Linked DNA regions of Homo sapiens. The protein of the gene in region 2 purifies or fractionates together with the protein of the main gene of each other region. This does not show direct contact. Each region holds a gene or a part of one and is shown on either strand. Other genes may lie near its edges.

What was found.
Region 1: the proteins of CLPTM1 (region 2) and TCTN2 purify together in Homo sapiens (affinity purification with mass spectrometry; one large-scale study listed by BioGRID and IntAct). This does not show direct contact.
Region 3: the proteins of CLPTM1 (region 2) and AP3S1 purify together in Homo sapiens (affinity purification with mass spectrometry; one large-scale study listed by BioGRID and IntAct). This does not show direct contact.
Region 4: the proteins of CLPTM1 (region 2) and LMAN1 purify together in Homo sapiens (affinity purification with mass spectrometry, with the first as the bait; one large-scale study listed by BioGRID). This does not show direct contact.

What each region holds. Positions count from the first base shown.
Region 1 is NC_000012.12:123,701,791-123,706,011, reverse strand, and holds part of TCTN2 (tectonic-2 isoform 1 precursor), read right to left. Parts: intron 1,481-4,221; coding exon 1,324-1,480; intron 1-1,323.
Region 2 is NC_000019.10:44,972,150-44,976,477, reverse strand, and holds part of CLPTM1 (putative lipid scramblase CLPTM1), read right to left. Parts: intron 3,392-4,328; coding exon 3,268-3,391; intron 2,040-3,267; coding exon 1,881-2,039; intron 1-1,880. UniProt on the Homo sapiens protein: Involved in GABAergic but not glutamatergic transmission. Binds and traps GABAA receptors in the endoplasmic reticulum (ER).
Region 3 is NC_000005.10:115,900,640-115,904,967, forward strand, and holds part of AP3S1 (AP-3 complex subunit sigma-1), read left to right. Parts: intron 1-2,245; coding exon 2,246-2,353; intron 2,354-4,328. UniProt on the Homo sapiens protein: Part of the AP-3 complex, an adaptor-related complex which is not clathrin-associated. The complex is associated with the Golgi region as well as more peripheral structures.
Region 4 is NC_000018.10:59,334,664-59,338,991, reverse strand, and holds part of LMAN1 (protein ERGIC-53 precursor), read left to right. Parts: intron 1-38; coding exon 39-232; intron 233-364; coding exon 365-435; intron 436-4,328. UniProt on the Homo sapiens protein: Mannose-specific lectin. May recognize sugar residues of glycoproteins, glycolipids, or glycosylphosphatidyl inositol anchors and may be involved in the sorting or recycling of proteins, lipids, or both.

The DNA.
Region 1 (4,221 bases), on a different chromosome or scaffold from region 2:
GGCTGAGGCAGGCAGATCACCTCAGGTTGGGAGTTCAAGACCAGCCTGACCAACATGGAGAAACCCCATCTCTACTAAAAATACAAAATTAGCCAGGCGAGGTGCCACATGCTTGTAACCTCAGCTACTTAGGAGGCTGAGGCAGGAGAATCGCTTGAACCCGGTTGGTGGAGGTTGCAGTGAGCCAAGATGGCACCACTGCACTCCAGCCTGGGCAACAAGAGCAAAACTCCGTCTCAAAAAAAAAAAAAAGAAAGAAAGAAAGGAAAGAGGAGGAAAGGGGCTTTCTCCCCACTGGACTTGCTGCAGTGACATAAGCCTGGATTGCTGGTGCTGATCTTTGCCATCTCTTGAGGAGAACCTCCCTGAGAATGAAGCCAACCCAAAGGAAGAGGAGCTGAGATACGAAAACAAAAAGATCCCTGACCACACTGGAACCATGAACCATGAACTAGCTGTATGTGGATTACTCTGAACTTGAACCAATAAACTCCCCTTTTTGCTTAAGTCAGTATGAACTGGGCGCCTGTCACTTAAAACCGATGGAGGCAGGCTGGGCGCGGTGGCTCATGCCTGTAATCCCAGCACTTTGGGAGGCCGAGGCGGGCGGATCATGAGGTCAGGAGATTGAGACCATCCTGGCCAACAGGGTGAAACCCTGTCTTTACTAAAAATACAAAAATTAGCTGGACATGGTGGCACGTGCCTGTAATCCCAGCTACTCGGGAGGCTGAAGCAGGAGAATCGCTTGAACTAGAGAGTTGGAGGTTGCAGTGAGTCAAGATATTGCCACTGCACTCCAGCCTGGAGACGGAGCAAGACTCTGTCTCAAAAAAAAAAAAAAAAAAAACTGATGGAGGCTTGATACATAAAGGTATTATCACCATATTACAGAGGAGGAAACTACAGCTCAGAAAGGTTAAGTAATTGGCCAGTGTCACACAGCTCCTAAGTAGGACAGCCATGATTTGAACCTATCTGCTGCCAAAGTCTCTAACCACAGACAATATTCTCTGATCAGATTATCAGTTACATCCATGGATTTCAAAATATACTTAGTACTAAGGGGCCCTTTATTCATCTTTGTACTCCCTAAAATAACTTGCAGACTCTCTTACATATGGCTTTATAAATACTTGTGAGAATAAGTCTCCATTATACACATAGTTCGTACATATTCCATATGTGCATATAAACATCTTGCTAATAATTGCAAGTTGTAAATAAACAATCAGTTTCTAAATAAACATTTCCCTATTGTTTGGGATGCTCTCAACTTTCCTGACTCTCTCTAAACTACGGTGATCCAAGATGTGATCATACCTTGTCTCTACACCGAGTATCTCCTGCTGAGTAATCCCTTCCACCGCGCCAGCATCCGAGATGAGGATGCGGATGCTCAGGTGAGCAGGAATATCCAGGCACATGCCGTTCACACTGCTAGCCAGCGGGTCTGCACCTGGATCAGGGGCATCTACACCTATAGAAATGTTAAGTTATACACTTTTCAAAGAATAATTTGATAAGTTTTCCTACAATGTCGTAATAACCAAAATGGGGAATAATATCAGGCAGGCATCACATTAATGAGGCTTTAGTCTCTTACAGGCTCTAGTTACTTGTCACTCCATAACTGTGTTATCCCTTAAAGTCTACAAGGCATAGGATGGCACTAATAAAAATTGTGTTTAAAATGTTTCCTTGTATGGGCCGGGTGCGGTGGCTAACGCCGTAATCCCAGCACTTTGGGAGGCTGAGGCGGGCAGATCACGAGGTCAAGAGATCGAGACCATTCTGGCCAACATGGTGAAACCCCATCTCTACTAAAAGTATAAAAATTAGCTGGGCGTGGTGGTGCTCGCCTGTAGTCCCAGTTACTTGGGAGGCTGAGGCAGGAGAATGGCGTGAACCTGGGAGGCGGAGCTTGCCGTGAGCCAAGATCACACCACTGCACTGCAGCCTGGCGACAGAGGGAGACTCTGTCTCAAAAAAAAAAAAAAAAAAAAAGTTTCCTTGTATGTTAGCCAGTCACTGGAACTTAAAAGCCCTGACCCACATATTAAAGCCATAAATCATGATTCAGTTTCCAAGCTCCCACTGAAATCTACCCAGCCTTTTAACAGAAACATATATAATTGCAGTGAAATGCCATCGTTATTCCATGCAGTCACAGTTCTAGTAAAAGCTGTGTAAGACATTTAAAATCCATACTAACAACTTTAGGCCAGGCACAGTGGCTCATGCCTATAATCCTAGCACTTTGGGAGGTCAAGGTAGAAGCACTGCTTGAGCCCAGGAGTTTGAGACCAGCCTGGGCAACATAGCAAAACCCTGTCTCCTCGAGAAAAATAAAATAGCCAGTCATGGTGGCACACACCTGTAGCACACACCAGCTACCCAGAAGGCTGAGGTGAGAGGATTGCTTCAGCCTGGGAAGTCAAGGCTGCAGTAAGCCGTGATGGCATGGCACCACTACATTCCAGCCTGGACAAAAGTGAGAACCTCATCTCAAAAAATAAAAATAAAAATCAGTCGGGCGTGGTGGCTCACGCCTGTAATCCCAACACTTTGGGAGGCTGAGGTGGGTGGATGACCTGAGGTCAGGAGTTCGAGACCAGCCTGGCCAACATGGTGAAACCCTGTCTCTACTAAAAATACAAAAATTGGCCAGGTATGGTGGCGCACACCTGTAATCCCAGCTACTTGGGAGGCTGAGGCAGGAGAATCACTTGAAACCTGGGAGGTGGAGGTTGCAGTGAGCCGAGATCATGCCACTGCACTCCAGCAACAAAGTGAGACTCCATCTCAAAAAAAAAATAATGATAATAATTGAAAAAAAAATAATAATAAAACAAAATCCACACTAACGACTTTAATTAGTATGTATTAGATAGGTAAGTAATTTCCTAATGTGTTACCATAGTATTAATACAATTGGAAGAGAATGAAATTGAATGAGAAATGAATTTGCATTCGTCTTGGAGAAAACCCAGCAAGGTCAATTGGAGGAAGTAGGGTAGGTTCTATGGCTCCTCTGAAGGGGGTTCTTTGCTCCTTCAGGGATTCCGAAGGTCAGTAACACTGTTTTATGTCTAATTTCCTTATACATGTGTCAACACCACTTCTCTTCTGCTTATTAACCAGGATCAAGGTTGCTTTTTGGCTCAGACATGAAATAAAAGCTAACCCCTTCCACCTTGAAGGCAACAAAATGTCATCACCACACTGATTTCGTACCTCATCAACCTGGGTTCTCCGTCTGGACATTTTCCCTACCGTTTATTTCCCAACTGCTGACTTTTCTCCAGCCCTCAGGGTCATTCCACAGCCTATCTAGCTGGCCTGGGTGGCAGAGCCCAGGGCTTGACAAGCTCGACCTCTGGGTTCCGTTTGCAAATGAGGATCTAGGTCTGGGCCCAGTGCCTTGAGCACCAGCTAGATGAGCAAACAGCAGCCTGAGTGCCCCGTGGGGGTGGAGTCCAACAGGACTCCCTCCCCAAGTCAGAGAGTGGTCTGGGGCACCTCAAGCTCACAGACATATCACATTATCCATGACCAAGAGGGGGAAGGGAGGGTCCTCATCACCATGACCCCAATCACAAGGAGTAGGCACAATACAGGTGTGTGTCTGTATGGGCCGTTGTGTGAATTCCAGCCTACTGAGCCTAGCTGACCTCAGAGGAGATGGAAAGGGTAGGGACAGGATCCAGAGGGCTGATCCCTACCCACCAGGCAGAGGAGAGGGGCAGAGCAGCATCTGCAGGGAGAGCTGGGCAGGGGCAAAGCAGATGCGCACACTCATTGGGCTCTTTCTGGTCCCAAAAGGCAATTCCATTAATTAGCTCAATAAAAAAAGCTTTCCATTCAAAGTATTTACAGACTCAAGGCTCCCCAAGAAACCGGGAAGTTACCTAACTTGCTACCAGGGAACAGAGGAAAGAGGTTGGAACCCCAGGTTTTCATTCTAGCTCTGCCAAAACTCACTGTGACCTTAGGCCTCTCCAACATAACCCGATGAGCTGGATCTCCATGACTCAAAGGATATTTTGGATTCAGAGGTGAAATCAGGCCTGATGAAGAAGCTTTAAAGTCTGGTTTACCTTTATTCCATGTACATGTGGTATATCTTTTTCCCTTTGTGTACGAGCTACTTGCCAATTCAACACTGCAAATACCTTTGGCCAGAGGCACTGAGCTGTCAAGTCTTTCTATCTGGCCCCC
Region 2 (4,328 bases):
GTTGCCCAGGCTGGAGTGCACTGGCTATTTGCAGTTGCGATCATGGCACACTACAGTCTTAAACTCCTGGGCTCTGGCCATTCTCCCACCTCAGCCTCCTGAGTAGCTGTGCCTACAGGCACATGCCACTGTGCCCAGCTCTCCTGCCTTTTAAGTCCACTTGGACCCCACCCTGAAGCTTCGACTTAGATCCAAGCCCTTGGAAGCAGATCCCCCTGCTGGGCCTGCCAGGCCCTGGTCCTTCCTTGGATCTCGTGGCAAGGCCTGGGGGCTGGGCTTGAGGTCTCTGTGGGAGTCACCTCTCAGTGCAGGTCAGAAAGTCCAGCCAGGTGGGGTGGTTCATGCCTGTAATTCCAGCACTTTGAGAGGCTGAGGTGAGAGGATCGCTTGAGCAGAGGAGTTTGAGACCAGCCTGGGAAACATGTTGAGACCCCATCTCTACAAAAAATTAGCTGGGCATGGTGGTGCATGCCTGTTGTCCCAGCTACTTGGGAGGCTGAGGTGAAAAGATTGCTTGAGCCCAGGAGGTTGAGGCTGCAGTGAGCTGTAATTGCACCACTGCACTTCAGCCTAGGCAACAGAGCAAGACCCCATCTCAAAAAGAAAAGAATGATGGCTGGACGCGGTGTCTCACGCCTGTAATCCCAGCACTTTGGGAGACCAAGGTAGGTGGATCACTTGAGGTCAGGAGTTCAAGGCCAACCTGGCCAACATAGTGAAACCTTGTCTCTACTAAAAAATAAAAAAATTAGCTGGGTGTGATCATGTGTGCCTTAGTCCCAGCTACTCAGGAGGCTGGCACATGAGAATCGCTTGAACCTGGGAGGTGAAGTTGCAGTGAGCCAAGGTTGCGCCACTGCCCTCCAGACTGGGTGACAGAGCGAGACGCTGTCTCAAAAAAAAACAAAAAACAAAAAAAAAAACCAGAATGACTGTGTCCACATTCTGCTTCTAGCTACCCAGACAGAAATAGAACAGAAATGTGCCCTCCACCCCAAAGCTGAGAAGGCCTGCTGGGGAGAAAGGAATGAGGGCAGCTGTCTTGGACTCAGCCGAAGAAGGCCCCAAAGAGAGATGTCCCTTTTACTTGTTCAATACTTGCTGATTCTGCACCCAGCCCCACGTTGGGCAGTGCTGGGGACATGGAAGTGATCTAGGCAGCCCCAGCCTTATTATCACAAGGCTCACAGTCCCATACAGGAGTCCCAATGAGGCCCCAGAATGGGCTGGGATGGGGAAGCCCAGCAGGTGTGAGAACCCAGAGAGGGTGCTTAACCAAGCCTGAGTGCTCTGTGAGTCAGGGAGGGCTTCCTGGAGGAGGTTGGATTTGAGCCTAGGGCTGCGAGAGTCCACAGCCGTAGAGCCTGAGTCTGAATCTCTCATGCGATGTGGCCTTGGGTAAATCACTTTCCTTCTCTCTCAGTTTCCTCACATGTTAAATGAGAATAATAACAGTTCCTGCTTCACAGGGTTGCCGGGAAATTTCCATGAGTCAGCCTAGCTTAGTACCCTGCACTTAGCTCAATCAACATTAACTAATATTATTTTGAAACGGGGCTGCCTGATAAACTGGTGATAGGCAAACATCCCCAAGGACAATTACTAATCTTTCACCAGTTTAAAGTGGAGGACTGCACAACCTTAGAGGTAGCTGGGAGGGTCCCAGGCCAATTCCACCCCTATCTACCTTTTTCAGGTAGGGGAAAGTGAAGCCCAGAGATCTCAGGGACTGGCTTGTGGTCACAGACCATGTGAGCCCAGGGAAGGGCCAAGCCTGGAGCCCAAACTCCACATGCTCTCAGCAAGGAGCGGACTGGAGGAAAAGGTCCTTCAGTGCCAGTCAAGCAGCCATGGGGCCAGAAACCGAGAGCTGCCCCCACCTGTGGGATATCGAGCTCAGCAAAGTGCTCGTAGCAGCCGTCTGAGTTCTCGCCGCTAGTCCAGTCGCCATACACAAGATCGTGCTGTTCCCAGAAGAGTGCCGACGTGGCGTTGAAGTCTGTAAAGTGCTCGTGCTCTGAGATGTACACATGCAGGTTCTGTTGGGACAGGAAGGGAACAGAGCTCAGGCCTGCTCTTCAGAGCCTCTGCAGGCTGGCTAAAGAGCTATGGCAGCGGTCAGCACACTCAGGGGAACAGTAATTATGGAGGACAGGGGAGAGGAGAGAGGAAGAGCAGCAGAGAGGACATATTTTCTCTTTTCTCATACCACCATGTTTGTCCTGGTCTGAGCCTGTGAAGTCAACGAACAAAGAACACTTGGAGACTGGCCAGCCTGCCAATTAGAATTTAGGGGTAGGAAGGGGCAGGAGCTCCCTGAATGATCTCCTGCCCTCATGGCTGCTGGGCCTTCCTGGTCAGAGCTCTGCAGGCTTATGGACGAAGCAGTCCAGAGCTACAAAAGCACTGTGAGCCACCGGGCACGGTGGCTCATGCCTGTGATCCCAGCACGTTGGGAGGCCAAGGCGGGTAGACCACTTGAGGTCAGGAGTTCGAGACCAGCGTACCAAAAAGGTAAAACCCCATCTCTACTAAAAATACAAAAAATTAGCTGGACGTGGTGGCACATGCCTGTAATCCCAGCTAGTCGTGAGGCTGAGGCAGGAGGATCACTGGAGCCCGGGAGGCAGAGGTTGCAGTGAGCTAAGATTATGCCACTGCACTCTAGCCTGGGCGACAGAGTGAGACTCCATCTCAAAAAAAAAAAAAAAAAAAACCCACTGTGACCCAACAAGAACTTCCTCCTTTCTCAAGCCCCAATGGCCATGTTTGCTCAGAAAAGCCTAGACTGACAGATCTAAATGCTTTTGCTCTGGAGGCTCCTGAAGCCCTGCCCTGCCTGTGCCCAAGCCCACTGTGGAAGTGCAGGTCTCCTCTCCTTCCGGGCCCACCTCCTGTCAGCCTCTGCTGGCTCCCTGCCCTCCCCACCTCTCACACTCTCTCCCTTGCACATCTCCCTCTGCAACCCTGAAAGGCTGAACATACTTTTGAAATATAACATCCAAAGACCCTGATTTAACCTATTTTAACCAAATGAATTTGCTTTTTCTTTTGGGTGACACAGGTTTTATGTGCTGGGGATGGACCCAGGTGACAGAGGTCTCACGTGTTGGGGATGGGCCCAGAGTTCCTCAACCCTGGACCTGTTTTCCTAGACCTGCCAGTGAGCAAGGACCTGGTCTGTCCCGACTGCTGACATCACTCCTCCACATTCCACCCCTCCACACCCCATCACCTCCCAAGTCTGCCCTACCACCCGGCAGTTACCATTAAAGTGTCTTTGGGGAACAGGTTGCGGCTGGCGACGCGTGGAGCTCCTCCGGGGCCCGCCTGGTCCTGAGGGGCCGGCCCTCGGCGGAACCAACTGCTGATGGCCCAGATGATGAAGATCCTGAGGAGAGAAGCAGCAAGGTGGTGAGTCCCCAAGCCTTGGCTCTCCGCCATAGACCCGCCTGACTTCCTTCTGACTTAGCACATGCTGGCGCCTGACCTGGGGCTAGTGACCAAGTCAGGGAGGCCCTGAGAAGGTAGTCACAGGGCTGGCAAGGAGATAAGATGTCCCTAAAGACCACATCTGGGGAGGGAGCCCAGATGCCACCGTTTGCCAGTGTGTGGGGGTAGCTGGCACTGCCCTGGTCTGCATGCAGACCCTTGACTCTAAATCCTGCAGGAGCTCCTGGTGACCACAGGGCTGCAGGGGCTGACTCTTGACTCAGACTGGGAAACCTGCCATCCAGCCCCCTGGGATCCCCCGAGAGGAGACTAAGAATCTGGAACCCCTTCAGTGTGCAGATGGATGAATTAAAAGAAAAAAGAAATAAAGAAAAAATAATAAACATAAAATTTTTAAAAGAAAGAATCTGGAATCCTAGCGCTTCAAAAGCACAGAACCGGGGATGGTTAATGGCTACAAAAAATAGAATGAACGAGGACGGGCGCGGCGGCTCATGCCTGTAATCCCAGCACTTTGGGAGGCCAAGGCGGGCGGATCACGAGGTCAGGAGATTGAGACCATCCTGGCTAACATGGTGAAACCCTGTCTCTACTAAAAAATACAAAAAAATTAGCTGGGCATGGTGGCGGGCGCCTGTAGTCCCAGCTACTCCGGAGGCTGAGGCAGGAGAATGGTGTGAACCCAGGAGGCAGAGGTTGCAGTGAGCCAAGATCGCGCCACTGCACTCCAGCCTGGGCAACAGAGCGAGACTCCATCTCAAAAAAAAAAAGAATGAATGAGATCTAGTATTTGGTAGCAAAACACGGCAACTCTAGTCAATAGTAATTTAATTACACATTTTAAAATAACTTAAGAAGTATAGAGGCCAGGCACA
Region 3 (4,328 bases), on a different chromosome or scaffold from region 2:
ACGTATTTTCTGCTCCAGCCCTCAAGTCAGCCATTTCTCCAAGGAACCCTGGCTTCCTTCAGTAGAGAATGATGTTTAGAAATGACGATTTGGGCACTGTGTTTGCTCATTGTTACTGGGGTGACATGACTCCTGGTTCTTAGTGAACTGAGCTGGGAAATAGATGTATGTATACACGCACAGCTGTTTCTGGATCTTGATATGATATTAAAAATCATTGACCACTTCTTAATACCTCAGAATCTAGTACAATACTACAGAATTTCTTCTGGCTTTCTCGTTTTCCATATTTGCAGCTTGCTTCTCTGACAGAGATCAGTGAGAGATCTCATTATAAAAATATGTGTCTAATAATTAATGTTGATTCACTGTTTTAAATTTTTATATTTTTGTTTGTTTGCTCTTACCAACACAGTTTCATTTATCACTGTCATATGTATATCAGGCACCAGTCTCTTTTATGGTTTTCCTAACTTAATTTCTCATTCTTTCCTTCCTCTAACTTTCAATTCTTTATTTTCTTGCAGAACTGCGAAAATTAATGTATATAATATGTTCTCATTTGTGTAAATTAGATATGCATATACACACGTATAACAAGTATGTGCACAGCAAGTTTTCTAGGATACCTAAGATATAGCTAGCTGAGTAGCTTTGGATAAAGGGACCTAAAAACGGATGCAGAGTGTGGTAGAGACTATTGTTGTTCATACATAAGTTTCTGTATGAACTTTTAGTCATTTGCCTATATTCTTTTTTTTTTTTTTTTTTTTTAAGTTACGGTAGTTTTCAAAACACTGTCATGTCTGGTTTGGTTTGGTTGGCTAGGAAGATTAATTTATATAAATTTGTCTTCAGAATTTGTGCATGAGGTGTCCATGCTTCCAAAATGAAAAATAGTAAATAATGATGACTTTTTTTTTTTTTTTAATTGAGGCAGGGTCTCACTCTGTTGCCCATGCTAGAGTGCAGTAGTGTGATTTCAGCTCACTGCACCCTCCACTTCCCGGGCTCAGGCAGTCCTCCTGGGTCAGCCTCCCGAGTAGCTGGAAGTACAGACGTGAGGCACTATGCCTGGCTAATTGTCTGCATTTTTTGTAAAGGCAGGGTTTTGCCATATTGCCAGTGATCTGTCCACCTTGTCCTCCCAAAGTGTTGGGATTACAGGTGTGAGCCACCATACCCAGCCTCCAGGGATATTTTTTAAATTATGAATAAATTTGCGTGAAATCTTACAAAGAAATTTAAATTGAGTAATACATATTTAACTCCTAAAAAGAGTTTGTTGAAAAAAAAATTACCGTATAATACCTAGTGGTTCTATGCTAAGCACTTACATAAATTATTTATTTAATTGTTATGGTAATCCTATGAGGTGCCTATATTATTTCTGTCTCTATTTCGTAAATAAGGTAACAGACTCAGAGAGCTGAAGTAACTGCTCAAGGGCTACAAGTAATAAGTGGTAGAGTCTGTATTCATACTTATCTAATTTTGGAGTCTCCATTTCTAACCTTACCACATTATTTTAAAAAAATTATAGCAGAATAGATTCTTCTGTGAAATGTAATTCAGTTCTGAATTGTTGATTTTTTGATCCAATAATACCTTATGAAAAGACAGAAGTTATATTTTTACTCCCCAATGGAAGACATCATTTTTAGTCATTGTAAGATGTATTTATTAGAAGAAATCTGAATATTACATGTGTAGAGGATTTGGGGGTAAAAACACTATTAAAGTACCCACAATTTAAAAAATTCTACCTTTTTCCAATCTAGAGCCTGTTAGAAGTACTGTACTACATTGCTTCATTAAGTACCATGAGTGTAAAATAATAACCTAATTATTGTTGGCTAAGAATCTGGCATAAAAGGCTCTTATAAATCATATTTTAGTATTAAACTTCACATAATAATAATAATAATGGTAGTTAATATTTACTAGTCATTTACTTTGTTTTGAGTACTGCATTGGATTACCTTGCTTATTCCTTTCAACAGTCCTATGAAGGTAGTACTATTGTTTTTGTTTTATAGCCCATTAAGCTCAGACTTAAGGAGGTTATATAACTGCCTAGGGCTTCACAGTAGTGATGAAAGTGGATTATGAGCCCTTACTCCAAGTTGTTTTTACCACTCATACTTTTAACATAGACAAAGTGGTATTTGAAACAAAAAGTGAATCATGAAACTTCTTTTTAGTGAATTTTCTTTATGGGTATATATTCTTTTATTCCCTTTAGGTTCACAATATTCTTGCAGAAATGGTGATGGGGGGAATGGTATTGGAGACAAATATGAATGAGATTGTTACACAAATTGATGCACAAAATAAGCTGGAAAAATCTGAGGTAAGAATGGAAAATGCTGTAGTTAAGAAGGTTCTAAGCATGATGACAGATTACGCATGATTTGTAGTTTTCACTGTTTGTCCTTCAGTATCACCCTTTAGGTTCAGCCGTTATGCTTATTCAGTTTTTAAAAAATGGAATATACACGTAGTATGCTAAAGGTTCTGTGACTGTTCTCTACCCAACAGCTTTGTGTATTCTTCTTTTAGCCACAGTCATAGCTGCCTTGGGTAATAAGCACAATTCCAAATCTTATTGCCTAAAAGAATTATCTGAATAATGGAATCTAATATTTGCTTTGTAAAACTTCAGTCGGTAATTATCAAGGAAATCTTAGAACTAATATTTTAAAGATATATAAATTTTGTGTTACAAAACTACTTCTGGAAAGGGAAAGGACAGGAAATGGAATTCTTACAGGGAAGTAAGTAATGTTTCAAGTTATTAATAAATGCAAAATAAATATTTTGAATGTTTGAGTTCACATTCAAAAAAGAAATTCAATACCTTAATCTTTTAATTCTAAATCTTTCCCTAAGATTTCACTGACAAGTTAGTTAAGTCACATATTTTAGACATTAGTACATATATATCCATGGTCTTTATTGCATTCTATAAGATCGGTTTGTTATACTTAGCTAACTTTCTGCTGTTAGATTCAACCTTAGATGGGATAAATGAGGAACAGCCAGCACTTTAGCATTGTATAAAACCCTACTTCAGAATTGTAGTGACTCTTCCCTCAAGCACTAGTCTGAATATCAGTAGCAGGTGCTGTAGCTGAGCCACCTGGGTTCACATTATTTTGGTTGTTTATTACCCTAGCAGAGGTTTAGAAAGATCAGTAGTTTTATCATTTGAGTTCAGGAGTTCGAGACTAGCCTGGCCAACATGGTGAAACCCCATCTCTACTAAAAAAATAAAAATAAAAAATAAATAAATTAGCTGGGCACGTAGAGCGCACCTGTAATCCCAGCTACTCGGGAGGCTGAGGCACAAGAATCACTTGAACCCCGGAGGTGGAGGTTGCAGTGAGCCGAGATCACATCACTGCACTCCTGGGCAACAGAGTAAAACTTCATCTCAAAAAAAAAAAGAAAGATCAATAATTTTGATATCTCATTCACCACCCAACTTGTTTGAGGATACTCTTACATTTGGTATTTGCAGTCATAACTCAGATTGGAAAAAACAGACTTTATTTTTATAATTATTAGTGTTAAGCTCAGATGTTTCGTTGATTTAAAGTAAATATTACTTTGAAAGCATCAAGGTTTTAAAAATACACTGGCATTAATTTACAACAGGTGAGTTCTGAAAAATTTTACCTTGTTGGCATTTTAAAGGATCAGTTTAACTCAATTCAATTCTGTGTCCATTTTAATTGAAGAAAACACAGGGTGAAGAATAAATCTCAAATCTAGAAACAGTTGAAGCTTATAAAACATTTTCCAGTGTTCTCTTTTAAATTTAAAATAGTCTTGCATTTTTCTTTATCTCAATTTCCCATTCCTGTTGGTTTCCCAAAGGAGAAGTTTATAGTGGTGATTTAGAGCTAAGATTATCTTAACTAACTATATGTTTTGTTTGTCCTATAGCCAATTTTTAAAATATTGGCTTTTGAAAGTGGAAAACATAAATTAGGTTAATAGAGAAAATTTTGTTTTAGGACAAGGAAAAAGACTCATAATTTAATTTAGTATAACTGACTTGCAATATATTATTTAGTAAAGAAAAGATTATTATAAACCCTGAGCTATTGCTTTTAAAGTCTTAAAAGAACTTAAAATGTGTGTCATTTGTTAAACATTGCTTTGCAAAACTGTATGGTTATAGATTTTAAATGCCAAGGGACAAACAGTGATGCAATCCTTTAATAACTGGTATAAATGAATGAGTATCTAGTAATTTGTGAATTCTGCATAATCATCTGTAAAAAATATTGACCAGTTGTCTGGAATTTTCACCTTTCTAG
Region 4 (4,328 bases), on a different chromosome or scaffold from region 2:
TAGGTGACTCTGATCATTTTTATTTATTTCCTTTTCAGCGGAGGAAATATTTGAGAGTGTAGGAGATCGAGAGCTAAGACAAGTCTTTGAAGGACAGAATCGTATTCATCTTGAAATCAAGCAGCTGAACCGGCAGTTAGATATGATTCTTGATGAACAGAGAAGATATGTCTCTTCCTTAACAGAGGAAATCTCTAAAAGAGGAGCAGGAATGCCTGGGCAGCATGGGCAGGTGGGCTTGCAGAATATGCAGATGTGCCCCATTTACCCTTTGCTGGAAGGGAAGTAAAGAAGAAGGGCAACTGTACTATGTGCTCATAGAATGTGGATTATTCAGCTTGCTCGTCATTGTTTCTTCCTCCAGATTACTCAACAAGAACTGGATACTGTTGTGAAAACTCAGCATGAGATTCTGAGACAAGTAAATGAAATGAAGTAAGTATGGAAAAGTAGCGTTTGTGTGTTATGTGATTTTTTTTATCCTAAATTTGTGACTTCAGGTGTGCAAGCACTGTATTGCAAGATTTCTGCATGAGGGTAAGAATCCCGTTCTAGATTCATTTTACAAATAGGGGACCATAAATACAGCAACTTTTAATATTCAAAAACTGCAAACATGTCTAAAGTTTTTAATTGTTTAGAGCTGGAAAAGAAAAAATGTTTTGGCATCTTTTAAAGAGATTTGTCAGTTACTTGACAGAGCCAGGTGTGTTCTTATATTTATAAAATATAAAAAGAATATGAAATAATATATAACACTTTTATGAAAAGTACTAGAGGAATAAATATGTGTAGCATTGTAAGACTATAATACAAGCAGACCTGATGCAGGAAATTCTTTTTGATGGAATGAAACCATTTTGAACGTAATATGTGTGACTACCTCTTTTTCATTCCCATCTTTTACTCTCAGAGAGACTGGACAGAGTTGGAGCAGAGAGGAGATAATTGTGTCCTTAGAATGTTGAACAATAAATTTCTAATGAGAATGATTGACTTATGCAGATAATTAATAGCTTTCAATGCCTGGAGCAGAGATAACAAACCATAGTGTCATGTTTCCATAACCTAACATTTCAGAGCACTGTCCCAACCGATAGAACCCTTGACAAACAAGAATGTCAAGGTGAGTTCTTTAGGACTGGAGAATTAAACAAGGTTAGATCAAACAGAAGGTGATTATACCTGATGTCTAGAGATTAAAGGCACTTAACTTATAACTGCAAATTTATATTTCTTCAATTTTTCTCTTTGCATTTTAAAAAATCTTCATAATCTGAACTCATGATTGAAATATTTATGATGCTAGATGAATAGTTTAGCTCTTCAAATAGTTTAGTTAAATGAATAGAATCCTTTTAGAAATAGACTGGATCATGTAACGCAACCTTTTTAAAAATCTTTTTATTTCGATCTAATTTTAGACCTCAGAAGCTACAGAAATAGTATGGGAAGTTTCTATACATTCTTCACCCATCTTTCTCTAATTTATATAACCATGGTTTAATTGTCAGAACCAGGAAATTAACATTGATACAATTCAATCAACTAAATTAATGACCTATTCAAAATTTATCAGTTTCTCCACCAAGGCCTATTCTATTCCAGGATCCCATCCACAATCGCACATTACATTTAGTTATTTTTTCTCTTTAGCCTTCTGCAGTCTGCAGTAGTTCATCTTCCCTTGTCTTTCATGACCTTGACATTTTCCAAGAGCATTAATCAGTTAATACCTTTTGATTTGGGTTTGGTTGGATGGAAGTTCCACATTTTGATAAGAAGATATTATATATTATAATATGTTATATAATATAATTATATATATTATTATATAAGATTGGTAAGATATTACTGATGATGTTGGCTGTGATCACTCGGTTATGGTGGTTTCCTATTGCTATCTCTACTTTAAAGTTACTGTATTTCCCTTTGTGGTTAGTATTTTGGAGAAGGTACTTTGAGACTATGTAAGTATCCATTTCAACCTTCTGCTCATTCATTTTAGCATCCATTGATGTTTCTTGCCTGTAACAAGAAAGTGGTTTTTGCCAAATGCTGATTTTTTTTTAATTTTTATTTTTATGTATTTATTTATTTATTTTTTTGAGACAGGGTCTAGCTCTGTTGCCCAGGCTGGAGTGCAGTAGTGCAATCACAGCTCTCTGCAGCCTCAACCTCCTGGGCTCAAATGATCCTCCCATCTCAGCCTCCTGAGTAGCTGGGACTACAGGTACATGCCACCACACCCAGCTAATTTTTCTATTTTTTTTGGAGTTGGGATTTTGCCATGTTGCCCAGGCTGATCTCAAACTCCTGGGCTCAAGCAGTCCTCCTGCCTCTGCCTCCCATAGTGTTGGGATTACAGGCGTGAGCCACCACGCCTGGCCCCGATGTTTATATTTCGAAATAATTCCCTCCATATTTGTTCATTGGAATTCTGCTGTCAGGACCAACTATCTTTTCTCTCCCATTTATTTATTTAGTTATTTATTTAGATCAGTTCAGACTCATGGATACTTATTCCATAGGTTACAGTCCAACACTCTCCTTATTTATTTTGCTGCTCAAATTGTTTCAGGTATGGTCATTCTGAGCTCCTTCATGTTGGCATCTTTGTTCTCTCAACAAGCCCTCATCTTTTTTTGAGCATTTTAAAAATTTATGGTACTGCTCTATCTTCTAGGGTCATCTTGTATTTTCTCTGCCCTCAGTGAGCCCTGGTTCCTTTTTCTTGAGAAAGGTATTTGAAAACCAACCTTTGGGCACTAGGTATGCTCATTACTACCGCGGTGCCGTTACCTCTAGGCCTCTTACTGGACAGAGCTAGGGAATATACATATGTATACCAACCCATGCATGTACATGAGTCTGTAGTTCCGTGTCTGTCAACCTACTCTTGTGTTAAACCATGAGATTATGCAGATATTTTGGATTCTGGCTGGACTGAACACTACAGAGTTAATTTTTAACTTTCCCCCTTGTCTTATTTGAAAATTCTTCCTCCAACAGGGAAAAACCTGGTTCTTATTATCTGTATCTATAACATATTTACTTATTGGTTTCACTTGAGTATGCATATAAGTACACACAAAGTGGTTTCAAATTGTTAGCTCGTATCCCTGTGAGAAAGACATTTACTGACAAGTTTATGTAAAGTTCCTTTTATCTCTAGCTTTACAGTATCCAGCCCAGATACTCTTTTCCAGATAGTTTCTTAGTGTAGTTCTCTTTTTCCCTACTCTTTTCATTATGGCTGATATTACTCATTTAGGATCCAGCTAGATTCTTTGTTAATGTTTATATTCCTCCTATATCCTGGTTGATTTAAATTGTTTGTATTTTGGGTATATGAATACTATGGTTCTAAGGGGCAGAGCATGTGTATATCGCTTCTTCATCCTTGCTACCACTTTCCCATCCTCCCCTTCTTTCCAGCTGTTTCCCACCCATTCCCTCTTGGTAACCAATTCTGTTAGCTTCCGGTTTGTTCTTCCTGTATTTCTTCTGCATATACGTATTTTCTTTTTCTTTTCTTTCTTTTTTTTTTTTTCTTTTGAGATGGAGTTTTGCTCTTGTTGCCTAGGCTGGAGTACACTGGTGCAATCTTGGCTCACCGCAACCTCTGCCTCCTGGGTTCATGCGATTCTTCTGCCTCAGCCTCCCGCCTAGCTGGGATTACAGGCACCTGACACCATGCCTGGCTACTTTTGTATTTTTAGTAGAGATGGGGTTTCTCCATGTTGGCCAGGCTGGTCTCGAACTCCTGACCTCAGGTGATCCACGCGCCTTGGCCTCCTAATGTGCTGGGATTACAGGTGTTAGCCACTGCACCCAGCCCATATTTTCTGAAGTCCCTTTCTTTCTTATGTGACGGGTAGCATATTCTAGATACTCTTTTGTGCTTTGCATGTTTTACTTAACAGTAGTACTAGGACATCTAAAGATGTAACTAGTTGTCAGGACGTCCTAGCTGTCCAGTTGTATTATCCATAGAATCCCTTTCTTAGAGGAGTTAACAATCCTTGCAAACTCCCACTTACTGAGAATAAATGTCATGCATACAGTAAGTTAATATAAAAACTGAGCTCAAGTTTCTGAACTAGTGCTCTGGAACTTTTTCTTTAGGATTTAGCTTCAAAAAAAAAATGTAAAGAGATAGAAAATATTTGCCTTTAATGGAAAGGGTAGTTTGTTTCTTTGTGGATTTTTATATTCTTAAGGAATCAAAGAAATTTTTTTTAGCAGAAAGAGATCTTAGAAAGCATGTAGCTTTTCTGTAGCAGTTGATGCCTCTTCCCACTTCTCCATCTCAAAACTTCCCTTTT